2 linked regions of the Homo sapiens genome follow. The protein of the gene in region 1 interacts with the protein of each later gene in a pairwise test. Each region holds a gene or a part of one and is shown in the gene's direction. Other genes may lie near its edges.

Region 1 (3,500 bases):
AGAAAATTTTAAGGCCAGGTGCAGTGGCTCATGCCTGTAATCCCAGCACTTTGGGAGGCTGAGGTGGGTGGATCACCTGAGGTCGGGAGTTTGAGACCAGCCTGACCAACATGGAGAAACCCCGTCTCTACTAAAAATACAAAATTAGCTAGGCGTGGTGGTACATGCGTGTAATCCCAAGTACTCAGGAGGCTGAGGCAGAAGAATCGCTTGAACCCGGGAGGCAGAGGTTGCAGTGAGCCAAGATCGCACCACTGCACTCCAGCCTGGGTAAAAAGAGCGAAACTCCACCTCAAAAAAAAAAAAAAAAAAAAAAAAAAGCTGAATAGTATTCCATTGTGTACTTATGCCATGTTTTCTTTATCCACTCTTCTGTTTTGATGGACACAGGTTGCTTCCATACCTTGGCTATTGTGAATAGTGCTGCCATGAGCAGGGGAGTGCAAACATCCCTTTGATATACTGATTTCAATTACTTTAGATACATACCCAGAAGTGGTATTGCTGGGTCATATGGCAGCTCTAGGTTTAATTTTCTAAGGAACCTCCATACCATTTTCCATAATAGCTGTGCTAATTTCCATACCCAGCAAAAGTGTACCAGGGTTCCCTTTTATCCACATCCTCACCAACACTTGTTATTATTCATCTTTTTAACAGTAGCCATCCTAACAGATGTGAGGTGATATTTCATTGTGGTTTTAATTTAAATTTCCCAAATGATTAGTGATGCTGAGCATTTTTTTCACGAACTTGTTTGCCATTTGTCTGTCTTCTTTAGAGAGATAGCTGTTCACGTCTTTTGCCCATTTGTCTTCTTTAGAGAGATGGCTGTTCACGTCTTTTGCCCATTTGTCCTCTTTAGAGAGATGGCTGTTCACGTCTTTTGCCCATAGTTATTAGATTGATGCAAAAGTAATTGTGATTTTGCCATTAAAAGCAATATTTGTCATTATGCAGTATTATTAATTATAGGCACAATGCCACACAGCAGATCTCTAGAACCTATCTTGCGTAACTGAAACTTTATACCCATGGTACAATATCTCCCCATTTCCCTGTCCTCCTAACCCCCAGCAACTATCCTTCTACTCTCTGCTTCTATGAGTGTGGTTATTTTAAGTACTTCATATGTAAGTGGAATCATGCAGTATTTCTCCTTCTGCGTGGTATATATTTAAATGCAATATTCAGCCTTACAAAAGAAGGAAATCCTGCCCCACACAACAACACAAATGAACCTGGAGGACAGTATGCTGGGTGAAATAAGCCAGGTACAGAAGACAAGTATTTCTAAGTGTCTTGCTTGCTGCTCCGTGCTCAGTCCCAAGAACGGTGCCTTCCACATGGGCACTACTGACACATTTTTTTTTAGCAATATGGATACATATGTGTTGAATTAATGAACTGCCTCCAAAGCTCTGCCCTGCACACCCTTAACTAGTCTACCAGAAAGTCTAGTACGTTCAATTTCCAAAACATCGGGGAGTGAACTCTCCTTCTTGAGCTCTGCTGGTGCTAACTGGCTCAAACCACAACCATCTCCTACCAGGATGATCATGGCGGCCCTCTAATTGGTTTCCTGGCTCCCATCGTGGTCCTACTGTGGTCTGTTCTCTACACAACAGGGTTTCATGCTCACATTCTTTTAAAATGTATATCAGATCTGGTCACTCCCCTGCTTAAAATTCTCCAGTGGCTTCTTGTCTTACTCAGAACCAAATCCTGACAACGTCCCATGACACACAAGCCCCTACGTACTTGGGCCCTGCCTTCTGCAACACTGAGACCTTGTCTATTTCATGCTCATTTCTCCCCAGCTCACGCCTCCCTAAACACTCCCCACTTCTGCCTCTTCCTCAAGTACACCTTCCTGCCTTACGGCACTTGTTAACTTGCAGCTTCCTCAGCCTACAGCTGTGTCATCCAAAATAAATACAATGTAAGCAGCATGGGTCATTTAAAATTTTCTTTCTCTTTTTTTGAGACAGTTTTGCTCTTGTTGCCCAGGCTGGAGTAGAATGGCACAATCTTGGCTCACCACAACCTCCACCTCCCAGGTTCAAGCGATTCTCCTGCCTCAGCCTCTCGAGTAGCCGGGACTACAGGCATGCGCCACCACGCCTGGCTAATTTTGTATTTTTAGTAAAGACGGAGTTTCTCCATGTTGGTCAGGCTGGTCTCGAACTCCTGACCTCAGGTGATCCACCCGCCTTGGCCTCCCAAAGTGCTGGGATTACAGGCATGAGCCACTGAGTCCGGCATATTCAGCTTTTAAAAAGAAGGAAACTCTATCATTTACAACAACATGAATAAACATGAAGCACATTATTCTAAGCTATATAAGCCAGGCACAAAAGGACAAATACCACATGATGTTACATGCAGAATCTTAAAAAATTGAACTCATGCAAATAAAAAGAAAGGTGGTTAGCAGAGGCTGGGGAGCCACAGAGAAGGAATGGACAGTTGCTTGTCAAAGGGTACAAAGTTTTGGTTAGACAGGAGGAATAACTTTTGAGATCTATTGCACAGCAGGATAACTATAGTAAATAATAATGTATGTTTCAAAAATCACCTAAAAAGTAAGTTTTAAATGTATCGCTGGGCACTTTGGCTCAGGACTGTAAGCCTAGCACTTTGGAAGGACAAGGTGGAAGGGTTGCTTAAGGCCAAGATTTTAAGACCAACCTGGCCAAAATAGTGAGACCCCGTCTCATTAAAAAAAAGTTTCGGCCGGGCACAGTGGCTCAAGCCTGTAATCTCAGCACTTTAGGAGGCTGAGGCAGGTGGATCAACTGAGGTCAGGAGTTCAAGATCAGCCTGGCCAACATGGTGAAACCCTGTCTCTACTAAAAATACAAATATTAAACAGGTTTGGTGGTGCGCGCCTGTAATCCCAGCTACTCGGGAGGCTGAGGGACGAGAATCGCTTGAATCCAGGAGGTGAAGGCTGCAGTGAGCTGAGATTGCACCACTGCACTTCAGCCTGGGTGACAGGGTGAGACTGTCTCAAATAAAAAAAAAAAAAAAAAGAAAGAAAAAAAGAAAAAAAAAAACAGAACAAAACTGTCTTTTGGAGCTGACGTTCTAGTGGCTCACATTCCCAAAGCTTTTATCTCAGTGCTTGACCCACAGTAAGCGATAGGTAAACTCCATCATCTCGTGGCTATCATCATTGTCATTGCTGATATAATCTATTTCTGCTTCTATTCAGTTTGACACGAATGGAGATGGGGAGATCACCCTGGTGGAGCTACAGCAGGCCATGCAGAGACTCCTGGGGGAGCGGCTCACCCCCCGGGAGATCTCTGAGGTTGTCCGGGAGGCTGATGTTAATGGAGACGGCACAGTTGACTTTGAAGGTGACATTGACGGGGCGTGGTGGGGAGCGGGGGCAGCCACCGCAGGAATCCACTTCCAACTCACTGTCAGATTTTCCAAGTTGGCCACTCCTTCTCACTCCTCTCCAAGTTTGAGAATGGAAGCGGGTGGCAGGT
Region 2 (3,500 bases), on another chromosome or scaffold:
GTTGCCTAGGCTGGAGTGCAGTGGTACGGAATGTGGTTCAGTGTAGCCTCAGCCTCCTGGGCTCAAGTGATCTGCCTCAGCCTCTCAAGTAGCTGGGACCACACACACACACACACACCACTACACCTGGCTGATTTTTAAATTTTTTTTGTAGAGACGGAGTCTCACCACGTTACCCAGGCCAGTCTTGAACTCCTGGCCTCAAGTGATCCTCCCGCCTTGGCCTCCCAAAGTGTTGGGATTACAGGCATGAGCCACCATGTCTAGCCTATTAGTTTTTTATATAGAGAGGTAGATTTGTATGTACTGACATAGCCTGTATGGATGTCTAGAATATACTGTTGAGCCAAAAAAGCAAGCTTAATCTCATTTTTTGTAAGATACAAAACAAAATAATGAAGGGTGAGTGTGTGTATATATATATATTCTGAATAAGAATTAGAAAAAGACTAGAATACCTGAAAACATTTAATTCTGATTACTTCATGGGAAAAGCCTAGGGGAGACTGGTTTTTCATATCACATGTGTTTGCATTGCTTCAGTTTTTTTTACAATGGGCATTTACTTTTGTAAGGAAGATGTTACAATTTCTCACCAATTTCATGAAGGTCTAGATTTAGACAAAAATATACAGTGCCTAGTACCTAAAAGGATGTGGTAAAAATGACACACTCTTATGTTACATTGGCCATATGTGTCAAGAGTCTTAAAATTATTTACATTTCTTGATGGTCTAGGAACCATCAAAAGAATATTTTTAAATACAGAGAAAAGCTTTCTGCACAAAATATGTATATTGTAGAATTATATTTATGGGCACAGTTTGCAGAATGGTTATGATACATCCCCTATATCATATATTTAGTGGCAAATAACATTGCCATTAAAAACGTTTATGAAGAAAATATATTAAAATGCTTATGATAGTGTTAAGTGGAAGGAAATCAGGATACACAATTGTATACCTGATATGATGAAAACGCCCCAAAAAAAGTCCCAGCAGCCTTCCAGTAAAACCTATGAATGGCAAAAATATGTAGAAGAAATTAGATGGAAATCTTAAGAATTGTGGAATTCGGTAGGATGTCGGGTGATTTAAATAATCTTTTTTGTATTTGCCAAGATTACATGTACCTGTATTACATGTATGATGGAACATTTGATTTAACAAAGTATATCTGGGACATGATAGCTACATGGCAAATAGACATGAGCACTTTTTTTTTTGGTTAAAGCCAATGAATAAATTTGGAATTTACACTGAAAATGATTGGGACCCATTGAAAACTTGTGAGTAGGGTAAGAACAATCCATTTTGCATTTTAGAAGGTTACATTAGAGTAGATAATGGATTAGAGGGAAGCAAGACTGGAGGCTTTTGTAGAATTCCAGGGAAGATGATGGTGGCTTGAGTTAAGTTGAGACAATGCAGGTACACAGTGGAGAGTTTCCAGAGGTATTTGGAAGAGAGTGGCTAGACCTTTGTGATGGGGGGAAGTCAATGATATTGACTTGGGCAATTGAGGGGAGAGTGGACTCATTTACTATAGTTGGGAATTGGCTATGGTTTGAATATTTGTCCCCTCCAAAACTCATGTTGAAACTTAATCCCCAATGTGACAGTGTTGAGAGGTGGGGCCTTTCAGAGGTTTGGCTCATGAGGGCAGAGCCATTCATAGATTAATGGGTTGTCATGGGAGGGGACCTGGGGGCTTTATAAAAAGAAAAGAGATCTGAGACAGCATGTTAACATGCTCAGCCCCCTCTCATCGTGTGATGCCCTGTGCCGGCTCAGGGCTCTTTGGAGAGTCCCCACCAGCAGGAGAGCTGTCACCAGATGTGGTCCTGGGCTTTTTCAGCCTCCATAACTGTAAGAGATAAATTTCTTCATAAATTATCCAGTTTCAGGTATTCTCTTGTAAGCAATAGAAAACAGATTAAGACAGGAATATAGTAGGCTTTGGTGAGGAAGTGACTGATTCAGTTTTGGATGTACTTGAGTTTGAAGGTCTTATAGGACACATAGGTGTGTCACGAAGAGGATTTACAAAGAATAATTTTACAGTACACATGTTTTGCTGTAAGAATGACTAGATACTATACATAGCTATGGTATTAAAATCAATATTTCTACATGGTAAATTTTTCTTGCAATATAGTTGTACTTCTGTAAATTGGGGCATATCTGTCTAGATAGACTGGACCATTGATATTTTTCACATAGAATTATTTGAGACTGCATGACCTCGACTTCAGATAATACCATGATTGTCTTTGGGGTTCATTGGGTAGACTCTTGCCTCTCTGAGTGGGTGGTGGAGGTTCCTCTGGGCATTAGTGGTCCTTTTGTCAGTCATCCTGTTGTCAGAGTACACCTGACTTCTGGGAGTGATTTCTCTTCATCTTGGTAAACTGGTCCCTTCCACGTAGGGGCAGGCCAGGAAATAGGCAGAGTGGTGCCCTTTCATCCATGTGTGAGTGCCCACCTGGCTGTTAATAGTATGGCTGGAGCATGGGTACCTTGAAGGACAAGTGGAGAAAAGGTAGCGGAGAAAGTGCCTGCCAAGGTAACAGAAGTCATTAGAGAGGAAGGTAGATGTCTTCATCAGAGGTTGGGGCCCAGTCGCTGGGAAGTTGGTGGCAGTCAGTGTGGCTGTGCTCTTTGCCTTCATCTCCCAGGCTTCTCCTGCTCACTGTGTGTCTGCCCTATGCTTCTATGTGTGCCTGCCCTCCCCCTAATCTCTTCTCTCGCTTGGCAGTAAATAACACGTGACCCCAGGTGGTCACTCTGGAAGGCCATTCTGAAACTCTAACTTCTGCCAGCTCACATCACAGACCCAGTCTTTCCACTTCCCACTTCCCAATTCCAAATTCTCTAGAAGGACAATCTGATTGGCTTAGCTTGGGTTCCACGCTCACCGTATCGGTTTTACTGTTGCAGCGCTTACAGGAGCAGATTCATTTAGTGTGAGCCTGGTGGACTGGCTAGAAGGGAGTGCAGACGAGGACACTCAGGAGAGACGTCCTGGAAGTTAGAAAGTTTCAAGAATGGACAGGAGCAGTAGTTTCAAACGGCCTAGAGATGTAATAAAGGGATCAGGAGTGAATCTTAGATTTAGCAAATTGAAGTCTTTCAGCCCAGGTTGAAAGTTGTGTCTACTGGGCATGGTGGCTCATGCCTGTAATCCCAGCACTTTGAGGGGCCAAGGCAGGCAGATGGCTTGAGGCTGGGAGTTTGAGACCAGCCTGGGCAACATGGCAAAACCCCGTCTCTACCAAAAATACAAAAATTAGCCAGGCATGGTGGCACACACCTGTGGTTCCAGCTACTTAAGAGGCTGAGGTGGGAGCATCACTGGAAGGCAGGGCTGTAGTGAGCCATGATCACGCCACTGTACTCCAGCCTGGGTGACAGAGCGAGACCCTGTCTCAAAAAAATAAAAAAAGAAAGCAAGCAAGTTGTGCTACAGCTAATCCATGTGGGAGAGTCACAAGGTGG

Evidence for each region. Proteins that work in one complex are often made in the same cells at the same time.
Region 2: the proteins of CABP5 (region 1) and ZNF664 interact in binary tests that used the Homo sapiens proteins (3 or more experiments, as listed by UniProt).

The regions. Positions count from the first base shown.
Region 1 is NC_000019.10:48,034,080-48,037,579, reverse strand, and holds part of CABP5 (calcium-binding protein 5), read left to right. Parts: intron 1-3,217; coding exon 3,218-3,365; intron 3,366-3,500. UniProt on the Homo sapiens protein: Inhibits calcium-dependent inactivation of L-type calcium channel and shifts voltage dependence of activation to more depolarized membrane potentials. Involved in the transmission of light signals.
Region 2 is NC_000012.12:123,979,715-123,983,214, forward strand, and holds part of ZNF664 (zinc finger protein 664), read left to right. Parts: intron 1-3,500. UniProt on the Homo sapiens protein: May be involved in transcriptional regulation.